3 separate regions of the Homo sapiens genome follow, and all the other regions are linked to region 1. Evidence: fine-mapped expression QTL. A gene starts in region 1. Each other region holds a variant in brackets. All regions are shown on one strand. Distances are between the middles of the regions.

Region 1 (4,242 bases):
TTCTTTCTTTTGCTTTTTTGGCTGATTGCTCTTGCTAGTACTTCCAGTACTATGTTGAATAGAAGTGGTGAGGGTGGGTATCCTTGACTGCTACTGGATCTTGGTGGAAAAGCTTTCAGTTTTTCCCTATTAATTAAAATGTTAACTGTGTGTTTTTCATAAACGACCTTATTATGTTGAGGAATGTTCTTTCTATACCTAAACTATTGAGAGTTTTTTTTTATCAAGAAGGTATGTTGGGGTGGGGGTTAGGGAAGGAAAAGATGTTGGACTTTGTCAAATGCTTTTGCCAGGCCAATTGAGATAACCATGTGGTTTTCATTTTTCATCCTGTTAATATGATGTATTATATTGCTTGATTAGTGTATGTTAAACCAGCCTTGCATGCCAGGGATAAATCCCACTTGGTCATGATACATAATTTTTTTGATTGTTGTTGAATTCTGTTTGCAAATATTTTATTGAGGATTTTGTACCAATGTGCATTAGCGAAATCAGCCTGTAATTTTCTTTTCTTGTGGCGTCTTTCTCTGGCTTAGGTATCAAGGTGATGCTGGCCTCATAAAATGTGTTTGGAAGTATTCCCTCTAGCTCCATTTTTTGGAAGAGTTTAGTAACAAACCTTCTTCTTTGAATGTTTGGTAGAAGTCAGCTGTGAAGCCATCTGGTCTTGTTGGGAAGTTTAAACAGAAAACCAGAAAGTCAGATAGTCCCTGTCTCATCTTCAATCTCTTTATTTGTTATTAGTCTGTTCAGGCTTTCCATTTCTTCCTGATTTCAATCTTGGTAGGTTGTATTTTTCTAGGGATTTCTCCATTTCATCTGGGTTATCCAATATGTTGGCAAATAATTGTTCACAATAGCCCCATATGATTCTTTTTATTTCTGAAGCTTCTGTTGTAGTGTCTTCACTTTCATTTTTTATTTTATTAGTCTTCTTTTTTTTCTTAGACTAGCAAAGGGTACGTCAATTTAATTTTTTCCAAAAAATCAACTCTAGTTTTATTGATTTTGTCTGTTTTTTTTTCTGTTGTCTATTTGATTTATTTCTGTTCTGCTCTTTCTTTTCTTCTTTTAACTTTGGGTCTTGTGAGCTCTTCTTTTTCCAGTTTCCTGAGGTATAATGTTAAACTATTTAATTGGTCTCTTTCTTCTCTTTTAATGTAGGCATTTATTGCTATAAACTTCTCTCTTAGAACTACTTTTGCTGCATTCCATAAGCTTTGGTATGTTATGTTTCCATTGTCAATTGTCTGAAAATATTTTTTAAATTTCCCGTTTGATTTCATCTTTGACCCACTGGTTGTTTCGAAGCATAGGACTGGGTATGGTGGCTCACACCTATAATCTCAGCACTTTGGGAGGCCGAGGTGGGCAGATCACCTGAGGTCAGGAGTTTGAGACCAGCCTGACCAACATGGTGAACCTCGTCTCTACTAAAAATACAAAATTAGTCGCGCGTGGTGGCACGTGCCTGTAATCCCAGCTACTTGGGAGGCTGAGACAGGAGAATCGCTTGAATCCAGGAGGCAGAGGTTGCAGTGAGCCAAGATTGCACCACTGCACTCCAGATGGGGCAATAAGAGCGCAACTTTGTCTCAAAGAAAAAAAAAAGCGTGTTGTTTAATTTCCACATATTTGTGAATTTTCCAAGATTCCTCCTGTCATTGATTTCTAGCTTCATATTATTATGGTCTGAAAGAATATTAATATGATTTCAATCTTCTTAAATTTAAGGCTTGTTTTTTGGACTAGCATATGGTCTATTCTAGAGAATGTTTCAAGTGTGTTAGAGAAAAAATGTGTATTCTGTTTCTGTTGAATGGAAAGTTCTGTATATATCTGTTAGGTTCATTTGGTTTAAAGTGCAATTCAAGTTCATTATTTCCTTATTTTCTCTCTAGTTGCTCTATCCATTGTTGAAAGTGGGATATTGACCCTCCTACTATTGTGTTGCTATCTATTTCTCCCTTCATGGCCATTAATATTAGTTGTATGTATTTAGGTGCTCCAATTTTGCATGCATATATATTTACAGTTGTGTCTTCTTGATGAATTGACCCCTTTATTATTAAACAATGATCTTCTCTGTCTCTTGTGACAGTTTTTGACTTGAAGCCTATTTGTTACATAATTGTTAAAGGAAAAGTCTGTAACAAGGAGGTAAAAGGAGAAGCCTAGATAATACAATACTGAAATGTTGCCATCCATTTAAAAATGTTACTTTAAAAATTTGAATGTATTAAAAGATAATGTTGCCCTACCCCACAGTTCCATTTCCAGTAGCAACCACAGATGATAGTTTGTGTATGCTTCTGAAAAATTGGAAGTTTTAAAAATATGCATATTTCTTATTATAAAAGCAATACAAACTCATCGAGATGTGTAAAAGAAAATACAGCCAGTGTAAAAATTAGCAATATTTCACAAACCCACAACTCAAGGGACAGTGCTCTTCGACTGGACTCTGCCCCATGCCCAAGATCAATGCCCTGTTCAGTTCCTATTCGCAGTCCCCAGCGCCCAGGAACATAGTCCTTCCAGCAGTGGCAGTAATAGGTCGCCAGGTGGTGCTGTGGAGCAGAGCTCCGGAGCTCAGTGAGAAAAAAGGCGCGGCCGCTCAAGGGAGCACGTGACCTCGGCCTCTGGCGTGGGCGGTGGGATCACGTGATGAGGTCCGGAAGCGGCTGCCGGGCAGCAAAGGAGGATGGCGAGGGGCTGATACTGAACCCGGGAAGGGTGGGCTGTGCTGAAGCCAGAGCCGGAGCCGGAGCTGGGGCCAGAACCCGAGCAGTGAGTTCCTCCACTGGCTGCCGGCTGGCGGCGCTCGCCGCCTTGGGCAGGACCCACCTCGCCTTCCTCCCGGCGTGGCAGATGCTCCAGGTCAGGCACTGGATCCGCCCGGGCTGTGGGTCCGCGACTCCTTGGCGTCCCCGGGCCGCAGCTGCGGTACGACGCTGACACCCCTCTGTGAATTGGGCGAAGCGTGGAGATCCCTTGTCCCTCGCGCTATCTCCCTTGACCTCGTGGGGTTGGGATCTCACCGTCCTGTTTGACTGACAGGTGGGGGAAACTGGGGTAGATGGTGAAGATAACCCAAAGGACCATCTAGGGCGTCTTTCACGCTTCGCACAGGTCTCCCCGTTTCCAGCAAATGTCTTGCCCGCTGCGGGAGCGCTGCTTGAGACAGGCTCATAATGGGTCTTTGGGTCAGAACTGCAAGGACGCTGGGAAGTCGTCTGGTGCAGCTCCCTCCTAGGACAGTTGGAGAAACTGAGCCCTTACTCCGGGAAGGGGTAAGGGCTTGCCTAAGGTCATCCAGTGAGTTAATCGGAGACCCGGAGACCTGCGACTAGAATGCAAATGTTCCTAAGCTTCAGCAGCTGTTTGCTTTTCGCCACACCGCCTCCTGCGGGAAACTTCACCTGTGAAAAGGCACTCCTTTCTGTCCCTTTCTCTTTTAGTCCTCTCCCTTTTTAGCTGTCTGCATTTTCCACCGCTGGGGTTGGATTTGCTCTGGGTGTGGTTCCCTGTTTGTTCATTATTTTTCTGCAAACTCATCCTTCTGTAGGTTTGGTTTCTAACCTTCCTGCATTCTATGTAAGTCACACCAAAATATGAAATATGAATCGGAATGTGCTTCTGGGAAGATAGGTGGCTGAGCCGAGGTTGTGGAGAGCCCTGACGTTAACTTGAAGAATGTAAAGACCTTTGCTTTATTTTTTCTGTAACTTGTCAGATTTGGGATTGCTTATTTGGATGGACGTTTTGCAGTTATTTGAATTTTGCTGAAGATAGCATCATGGTGCAATGGACAGAACAGAGATTGGGGAATCAGGATATTTTGTCCTAGCTCTGCCGCTTACCTGGCAACCTTAAGTGACTCGCGTTTGGGTTTCTCAGTCTAGACAGTGATGGAATTGAATTCTTAAGGGCCCCTTCTGCTGTGATCTGGATGTTGTGCATCTTTCTAGGCTTGTTTTTTTGTTTGTTTGTTTTTAAATAGAGATGAGGTCTCACTATGCTGCCCAGGCTGATCTCAAACTCCTGGGCTCAAGTGATCCTCCCACCTTGGCCTCCCAAAGTATTGCGATTACAGGGGTGTGAGCCAGTGCCCCTGACCAGGGTCTGTTTGTTTTTTTATTCCGAGAGATTTTACCCGCTGTGTACACTGAGTATCAGCCTTGCAACAAGACTTAATCTAATTGTGTAGGAAGCAGTTTCCTCTGCTTATTCCTCTGT
Region 2 (4,242 bases), 25 kb after region 1:
AAGTCCTCACTCAGTGGCTATCAGGCCATGGATAATTTTTAGTATTATTTCAGTATTAAGACAGTGAGATGTTCTTATACATTCCTTTTTGTGGACTTGTATAAATACTTAAGATATTTGTCTAGATGTGTAATTGCTGAAGAGTGTGCACTTTTGAATTTTTGTTATGTTACCAAGTTGTTTTTTCCAAAAGCTATTTCCTAATTTCATAGAGACTCCCTTCCACAGTATTTAAGTGCCCATTTTTCCATCCTTACTAATACTGGATGTATTAGTATTATTTATATTAGTATTCTTGATATATGTATGATATATTAGTATTTATATATAGTATAATTATATTAGTATTATTTTGGTCAGTCTGACAGGTGAATATTATCTCATTTTCATACAGTCTGCTTAACAGTGACCCAGTCACCCACTGATATAGTTTCCAGGAAGACAGTGGCTCATAAAAAGCAGGACTTCTTGTGCTAAGCAAATGACATTATCAATTTAGATTAACATTTTGCTCTGTGAGTATTGACTGTTTTTTCATCACATTAAGTCAGATGAGTGGCAGATATTGACTCTTCTGCAGAACTATTTTTTTAAACATAAAATAAATAGTTCTTCACGTCCCCTTTTTATGAGACTGGAAGGAGGGCCTGTGAATGCACTATAGACCATTTCCATTACCAAACAAGGAAGGGTAAATATTTACCCATGATTTCATGTTGTAATTAGAACTCTCAAGAGCACCTAGGATATACTCCACTGTACACTAAAGATGAATTGAGTGAGGCCACCCCCATAGACAGACACACCTGCTGCATTTACTTTTAAATCATTGCAGGTAGTCGGGCTGTGGTGGTTGCCATGATCAGAGGGCTGGGATAAGAATTTGGGTTCTTATAGCGTCTCAGTCCCAACCAACTGGTAGTATCCATCCAGAGTGATGTCTATGCATAGTACAACCAGGACACAGAGCAATGTCTGCATAAGGGCAGCCCTGCTGATTTCTTGAGAGCAATTCTGAGTCTTCCTCTGGGCTTAGCCAGAAGTTGTGCTGTGATCAAATAGTGCCGTCTGCCTGGAGTACAGCATGGGGGAAGAGGTTTGGCTGTGTTTTGATGTAGTCACTGCCCATAGTGTTGTAGTTGCTTCATTTTGATGTGTCATACAGCTAAAGATGCTCCCTTTAGGTCATTTTTGTTGCCGCTGCCTCTGCGGCTTGTTACTACTGTTCTGTTTTGGCATTGTGCCCCACTTACCATGAGGATTCCCCTACTGTTCAATGTTTCTGAATTTTTTCCCTAATCCTAAGCATGTACATGACTGTTCCTCTTGCCCCTCATGCACGTGCCATTGTAGGTAGCAGACCAAGGTCTTCCACAGAGAGCAGGTTCCTCTCTGTCTTCAGCATGTGGAGTCTCAAATGGAACAGTTCTGGGCAGAGTGCTTTGCACAGAGGGTGCTCCCAATAAATGTTTTATCACTGCATATCGTTGCTTCTGAGATGTATTTTTTCATAGTTATAACAGTTTCAGGATTGCAAGAGTACATCTCACAATCCATGTGTACCTTTAACAGCATTTTCTCAAAATACTGTTATTATAATTGATAATATGGTAAGACCTCACTTAATATCATTGATACATTCTTAGAAACTGCAATACATTAAATGTATGTATAGCGAAATCAGTTTTTTTCTCATCAATGTTATAACAAAACAGCGTTGAAGGAAGTGACTGTACGTCATTTCACTTAAAGTCTCAGTTTCCAAGAACTTATTGACGACAAGGGAGGACTTACTGTGTTGTAGAATTGAGGAGATATGTTAATAACGAGCTGATTTTAACATGTATGTTTCTTTATAAATTAAACTTTTCTCATTTAGTTGGTTGGGTCAGTAGCAATCAGTAAGTATGTAGAATAATACACTTCTTCTGCTGGCCTCATTCCCACAATATCCCCACATATGGATTGTGAAATTCCCAGTCTGATACTTGAATCTGATCTGATGTATGAATAAGAGCAGGAGTCATTCACTAACCAACAGATAGCACCTGTTTCCAATAACTTAGGTTACATTTGTGACTCAGGAATAATTACAGGCCACTCTTGCTCTCAAGTCCCATTGTAAAGGAAAAATACCTATTACCCTGTCTTCATTCCAGGTATTGAAATGCTTCTTACAAAGGGATCTAACAGATTTCTTAGCAGGGGCCCAGGGAAAC[A/G]CATTTATTTAATTTTTTTATTTTTTCAAAAGCAATATTACTGCTTTGAAATCTTTCAAAGTGAAGGCTGTTATAGAGCTTAATAATGGATCTCCTTTTACTTGCCTGAAATTATTCTGAAGCCTGTTAAGAGCATGCCCCGTATTATCCAAATAGCCATACAGTTAAATCAATTTTAAAACATTGTAAAAGGCTGTTTTAACATCAATTTTTATTTTAATTGAAGCAACATACACATGTGGTTTAGAAAACCAAATTGTAAAAAGACAGCAGCTTTGAATCCCTCCTCCCCACCCTGCCCCTTCCACACAGTCTGTTACTGGAGACTGTTGTTCGGTGGAGGATTTTGTGACTATACCTCTGTCTTAGTCAGGGTTCTCTAGAGGGACAGAACTAATAGGATAGATGTACATATATAGGGGAGTTTATTAAGGAATATTAACTCACGCAATCACAGGTTTCCACAACAGGCCGTCTGCAGGCTGAGGAGCAAGGAAGCCAGTCCAAGTCCCAAAGCTGAAGAACTCGAGGTCTGATGTTCAAGGGCAGGAAGTATCCAGCACGGGAGAAAGATGTAGCCTGGGAGGCTAAGCCAGTCTAGCCTTTTCACATTCTTCTGCCTGCTTTTTAATCTGGCCACTGGCCGAGCTGGCAGCTGATTAGATTGTGCCCATCCAGATTAAGGGTGGGTCTGCCTTTCCCAGTCCACTGACTCAAATGTGGCAACACCCTCACAAACACACGCAGGAACAATACTTTGCCTCCTTCAGTGCAATCAAGTTGACACTCAGTATTAACCATCACAACCTCCTTCCTTATACAACCTTAACATTGTACCTGCAGTTAACAGTTGCCCTTTTTCTGGCCCATTTTTTAAAGCATTCTTTTTGCTCCTCCTCCCCACATGTTCCAGCACTCCTGTTGTGTGCTTCTTGGTAATACTTTGAAAGTGCTCAAGTTCATTGATGAGAATTTTAAAAAGGAGAAGAAAAGAAGAGGAAAAAGGAAGAGAACCAATATAAAAATGTACCACTTTCTCTTCCCTTCCAGCTTTATCTTTGATGTTTATGTAGTTGTATCAGAGTGAATATATAAATTAAAATTAAAATTTTTTCTCACTAATATTTCGTAAGTAGTTTTTCATGTTCTACTTAGTTATCTCAATTTTTACTTTTTAATAGTGCATACTGGCCAGGCGCAGTGGCCAACGCCTGTGATCCCAGCACCTTGGGAGGCCGAGGCAGGCAGATCACTTGAAATCAAGAGTTCACAAACAGCTTGGCCAACATGGTGAAGCCCTGTCTCTACCAAAAATATACAAAAAATAGCCGAGTGTGGTGGCACGCACCTGTAGTCCTAGCCACTCAGGAGGCTGAGGCACGAAGAATTGCTTGAACCCAGGAGGCAGAGGGAGGTTGCAGTGAGCCGAGATCTCGCCACTGCACGCCAGCCTGGGTGACAGAAGGAGACTCTGTCTCTAGATAGATAGATAGATAGATAGATAGATAGATAGATAGATAGATAGATAGAATATATATTCTGTGGTTTAGCTGGTATGTTGTTAATTACTTAACTGATCCCTTGTTTGGAAGCACTTATATTGTTTTCAGTTACTTTATTAAACAGCTTTGCTCAGTGTTTTTCATCTTTTGATTTTTTTTCTACTTGAATTCAGTTTCTGGGGATGGGATTACCTAGTGAAAGAATGTGACTCTTTTTATGCAAGCCCCAACATTTGAGTTTTTAATAGTACCTTGGGCTTGTCTTTCCCCCAAACAAGTGGGTTTTTCTTAGCCTGAAGAGAAAAACATACAAAGGTTAAATGTCCCTAAATCATCTGTCAGGTATTAGACTTTCTTCCTTTAGAGAATCTTGGATTTGTTAAAAGGTATGACCTCTCCGATTCAGAGTTCAAATCTTGAATTTCTGTATAGCCTTTTGCTTTGTTTTGCTTTGTTTTGCTTTCTGTCTTTCAGAGGATCCCAGACCCCAGCCACCTCCCCTTGGTGGCCCCTTGGAAGAC
Region 3 (4,242 bases), 36 kb after region 1:
GGAGCCTGACTCCTCTCCCTGCCCAATTTTCCCCTCCAGCCTGGCTCAGCCTCCCTGTAGCATATGTCACACTTCCTGCCAGGTTTATTTCTGCAGCACCCTGCAGGAGACAGCAGTCTCTGATTCACAGACCTCATGTTATCCTTAGATGCCTCTTGGATTTTGCTTCACTTTTCCTGGCCCTGTCTGTGAGTCTCATCTCCCTTCAACAGGACGATGCTCAGAAGACACGGCTGCTTTTGGTCTTCAAGTGTGTGCAGTTGTTTTTCCCTTCTGTGATCTGTTGTGACTTAGCATTGCATTGTCATCCTGTTCAAAAAGGCAGCCCCCTTTATGTCTGAGAGCACTCGCCTCTCTCACCTTCCTTGGAGACTTTGAAGTAATTGTGGGACTCAGTAGAGGCCTTTCATGGCAGCAGCAACTTAAATGTATTTATGCGCGTTCATTTTGTTCTTGCTTCTCTGTTCTTTCAGATCTTTCAGCACCGTTGGTTAGTATGTGATTTTAGATCTTTAATTGATTTTTTTCATTTATATTCATAAATTTTAACAGCAGCTTCTTTTATTACTATTTCTGGTGTTTTCCTATCTTTTCCCCAACTTTTCCTCCTCCTCTTCACCCTCCAAAGGGAACAGGAGGAATTCAGTGTAGTTTCTTTTTTTTTTTCCCTCTTGGAATTCAACTTTCTCACCACTCTCCCCCATCCTCCAAAGATTACTATGGCTGATACGGACTTTGTGATGCTTAATTTCAAACAGTTGGAGAAGAGGGGGAGGGAAAACAAGTATTTCATAGGATAGTGCTCATTTTGTTATGATTTCATATCGGACAGTATCTACTTCCAGCCCATATTTTTGGAAATGCGGACTTAGCAGGTCACCTTATGTCCAGACCTTGTGTGGAAGAGGCTGGCCCCACCTGTGGAGTCTGGAGTTGTAGGATCAACGGTTTTTTAGATTTCTTTGGAGCAATAACCCATCCATCCTTCAGTGATTCATACTGATTCTCTGTGTCATTTGCCATGTGAAACATTTTACTTCAGTTTGCTATGAAAATTTCAGAAACCTATTTCTGAAGATATAATTACCTAAAATCGCATCATCCAAGAAGCCTGTTCAGACTGGAATGCAGAGCTGCAAAACATTCCAAGCAGTCGGATTTTTAGAGGATGAAGCTTCCAGGTCCAAACAGAGTAGCTTCTTAGTACCTTTGGGCCTTTCACACTTTTTAGTCTTGCAGCTACAGTGAAGAAGAGCAGCATCATTAATTAGCTGTGTAACCCTGCCACCCCCCACCCTGCATTCCCCGCCCAGGAACCCTCATAAGGCCTCAGGGTCCTCAACTGTAAGATAGGAAGGGTGTCTGACCTCTAAGGTTTCTCTCAACTCCAAAATTCTGTGATTCTGTATAGGTGCTTTGCGCTTGATTTTAAGTTTCTACACAAATATTACTCTAAAAAAAGAAAGTCAATGTAAAAACATTTGGGAATAAAAGAAGAAATTCCAGTATTCCACCAATTTAACAAAGTAATTTTTTTTTGCATTGTATCTTCTGTGTCTTAATCCTCATGGGTGCCTTGTAAAAATAGTTGCAATTGTAGTTTACACATAATTTTGTCTTTCACATTTTATTTAGTTTTATATCACAAATATTCATATCTTTCACTAATATTTTCATGACCTCGTGGTATTCCACTGTATTGGTGGATCATATTAACTAAGGTACTCCTTTCATGTTGGACATGGTGGTTGTTTCCCTTGTTTTCGTATTTTTTAAATTTATACCCCCACTAAGTCAAACTTTGTATACTGTCCAAGACTACTATGAATTTTAAAGGCATATTTATAGACATTTAAAAGTAACATGGTGAAACCCCGTCTCTACTAAAAATACAAAAACAAAATTAGCCTGGTGTGGTGGCAGGTGCCTGTAGTCCCAGCTACTTGGGAGGCTGAGGCAGGAGAATGGCATGAACCCAGGAGGCAGAGCTTGCAGTGAGCCAAGATCGCGCCACTGCACTCCAGCCTAGGTGACAGGGCGAGACTCCATCTCAAAAACAATAAAAATAAAAATAAAAATAAATAAATAAAAGTAACTTGGTAAGTTTTAACAGCTTTGATCATAATAAAATAGCAGCAAGAGCTCCCAGCACAGGAGCCATAAATGGCCAGCGTATTTCGTAAGTTCGCTTTTGTTCTTTTCAGTGCTTTGCTCTTGTTGTGTATAAGTCAGCTCTTTCTGATGCTGGTTCAAAACCACAGGCTCCAGAATCCAGTTCCTTCTGTGAACATGACTGTTGGCCTTATGTTGCTTCAGCAGTTTAAAAGCTCATATTCTTTGTGTCTCTTGACTCGAAGGGAAGATGTTTTGTAATACTGTTGGAGCCCTCTTGACTAATCATGTGGTCGAGCTGAGGTTGTCCTCTGTCCCCCCTTTTGTACACGCCACAGCTGAGCTGCTGCTGAGAAGTGTATAACTGCATTTGTTATACAAATGTCTTCCTTTTTGTCTGGGCTGGGGTCTTTGTGTGTGTGGGGGGGG[T/G]GATTAGGGGAGAGTAGGGAGAGGGCTGTTCCTGGCTGGCTGCTTCCTGAGATATCTACCTTGTTGAGTGTCTCTTCATAGGCACTTTAACTCACAGAAGACATTTAGTGCCAGAAGGGGTTTTATTTGCCCCACATGTCTGCATAGTCGATTGCTGCTTCTGGAGTTAGTTAAAGTCATTTTCCATGGTGGCAAAACAGATACCCGTGCTGTTGAACCCTGGGGGCTGCTGATGCTGATTTGGTTTGGACATCCTTCTCTTCTTCCCACTTTGTGTTAGTGGGAGGCTCGCTCTTCTTGCCCTCTGCAGTGTCACGCTTCATGTAGGGTTCAGCGGTGGTATGTGGTTCAGCTAGGACAGGAAGAAGGACTTCCCTTTGCAGCCCTGTGGTCCTGGCTTTAAGAGGAGAGAAATGTTCTTAAAATCTCTATTAAGGATATTTTTATTAGGCATGTTTATCTTATATAGTGGTGAAAACAAGAACAAGTTTTTAGATTACTTATAAAATATCATGATGAAGCGGAAGATCTTTGTCCAATCAGAGGAAAAATTCTGATCCCAATCTTCTGTTTCTGTTTCCACTTAACTCCCACCACAGAGTGGAGCATCTCTCTGACTCCACTTAACTATCATGAAGTGCCCATATGTCCTGCTAGGTCAGTATGGGAGAGGGTGGGGAGATGACAGACTCTCAGGGCTGGGAAAGGCTCTGATTTGTCTCCTGCCAGGGACTCATTTTCTCTGATAATAAAGGCCTCCTGTCTCTTGAGCGGACATCAGCATTTGTGGAGATGCTTGTGTGGCTGGGACTGAAGGAATAACTCACACTTCCTTTATCCATACAAAACCGAGTGGGTTAGAAGCTCCCTTTTGGGCAAGCCATGTGTTCGAGGCTTGGAGCCCCATCGCTTTGCTGTGCCACCCTCAGGCAGGACGTGGTGCTTCCCAGTTGTCAGTGAGGTGAGGAACATATCCCAGAACACAGTCCTAAGTGACTAACACTGGAGTGTATAGTTCCTTAGAATTTCAGAGTTGGGCGAGACTTCAGACATCACCCAGTTACCACATTTCACAGGTAAACGAATGAACTGAGGCTCAGAATAGTAAGCTGATTTGCCCTGCACCACTCAGCTTGTTATGGAGCAGGGACTGGTGATAATATTGAAGCATTTATTATTGGTTTTTAGAACGCTGAGTTCTTTACATGAGTGATATCGTTTGACCATCCTGTTTAGTAGTTGGGGAAATGAGTCTCAAAGAGTTTAGGTAACTAGCCACTGAGTGGTAGAGCTGAGGTTGGAGCCTGGGCATTCCAAATCCAGAGCCTACACCCATTCCTATACCACCCTCTCCCTGGGGCTCAGTTCTCCCGATTGTTACCTCAGTGCAGCTTCCACCCCACAGTAACACCTGGCACCATCACTGCAAGGATGACATTAGGCAGGGAGACCCAGACCCCAGAGAGGGCAAGTGTCTTGGTGTCGGTACCACAGCAGACCAGCTCTTTTGTTGAGCGTTAGATGACCTATGATGAGAATGCTGTTTTGTCATCAGCCTACAATTTTACCTCCAATTTTCTCCATATTCAACCCTCAAGGTTTGGGGGATGTCACCAACTCTATTTAGAAGCAGCTAAGGGCTGAAAACATAGTAGTTTTGAGTTTCAGGGAAATTAAAAGCCTAAACTTTTTGCACACTTC

Evidence for each region. PIP is the estimated chance that this variant, and not a neighbour inherited with it, causes the effect.
Region 2: its variant is the best candidate, but not a certain one, in a credible set for the expression of SLC36A1 in skin (TwinsUK, PIP 0.87).
Region 3: its variant is the best candidate, but not a certain one, in a credible set for the expression of SLC36A1 in neutrophils (Naranbhai 2015, PIP 0.51).

The regions. Positions count from the first base shown.
Region 1 is chr5:151,444,931-151,449,172 of GRCh38, forward strand. It overlaps SLC36A1 (solute carrier family 36 member 1), which reads left to right and starts at 2,673. Exons shown (of 11, transcript NM_078483.4): 1 at 2,673-2,883. RefSeq lists an enhancer at 2,653-2,702.
Region 2 is chr5:151,469,478-151,473,719 of GRCh38, forward strand. SLC36A1 (solute carrier family 36 member 1) reads left to right here. Exons shown (of 11, transcript NM_078483.4): 8 at 4,196-4,242. Among named protein-coding and RNA genes, the nearest start is that of SLC36A1, 24 kb to the left of the region's middle. The variant A/G (reference allele first, on the strand shown) is at 2,220.
Region 3 is chr5:151,480,985-151,485,226 of GRCh38, forward strand. All of the region lies in intron 10 of SLC36A1 (solute carrier family 36 member 1), which reads left to right. Among named protein-coding and RNA genes, the nearest start is that of SLC36A1, 36 kb to the left of the region's middle. The variant T/G (reference allele first, on the strand shown) is at 2,542.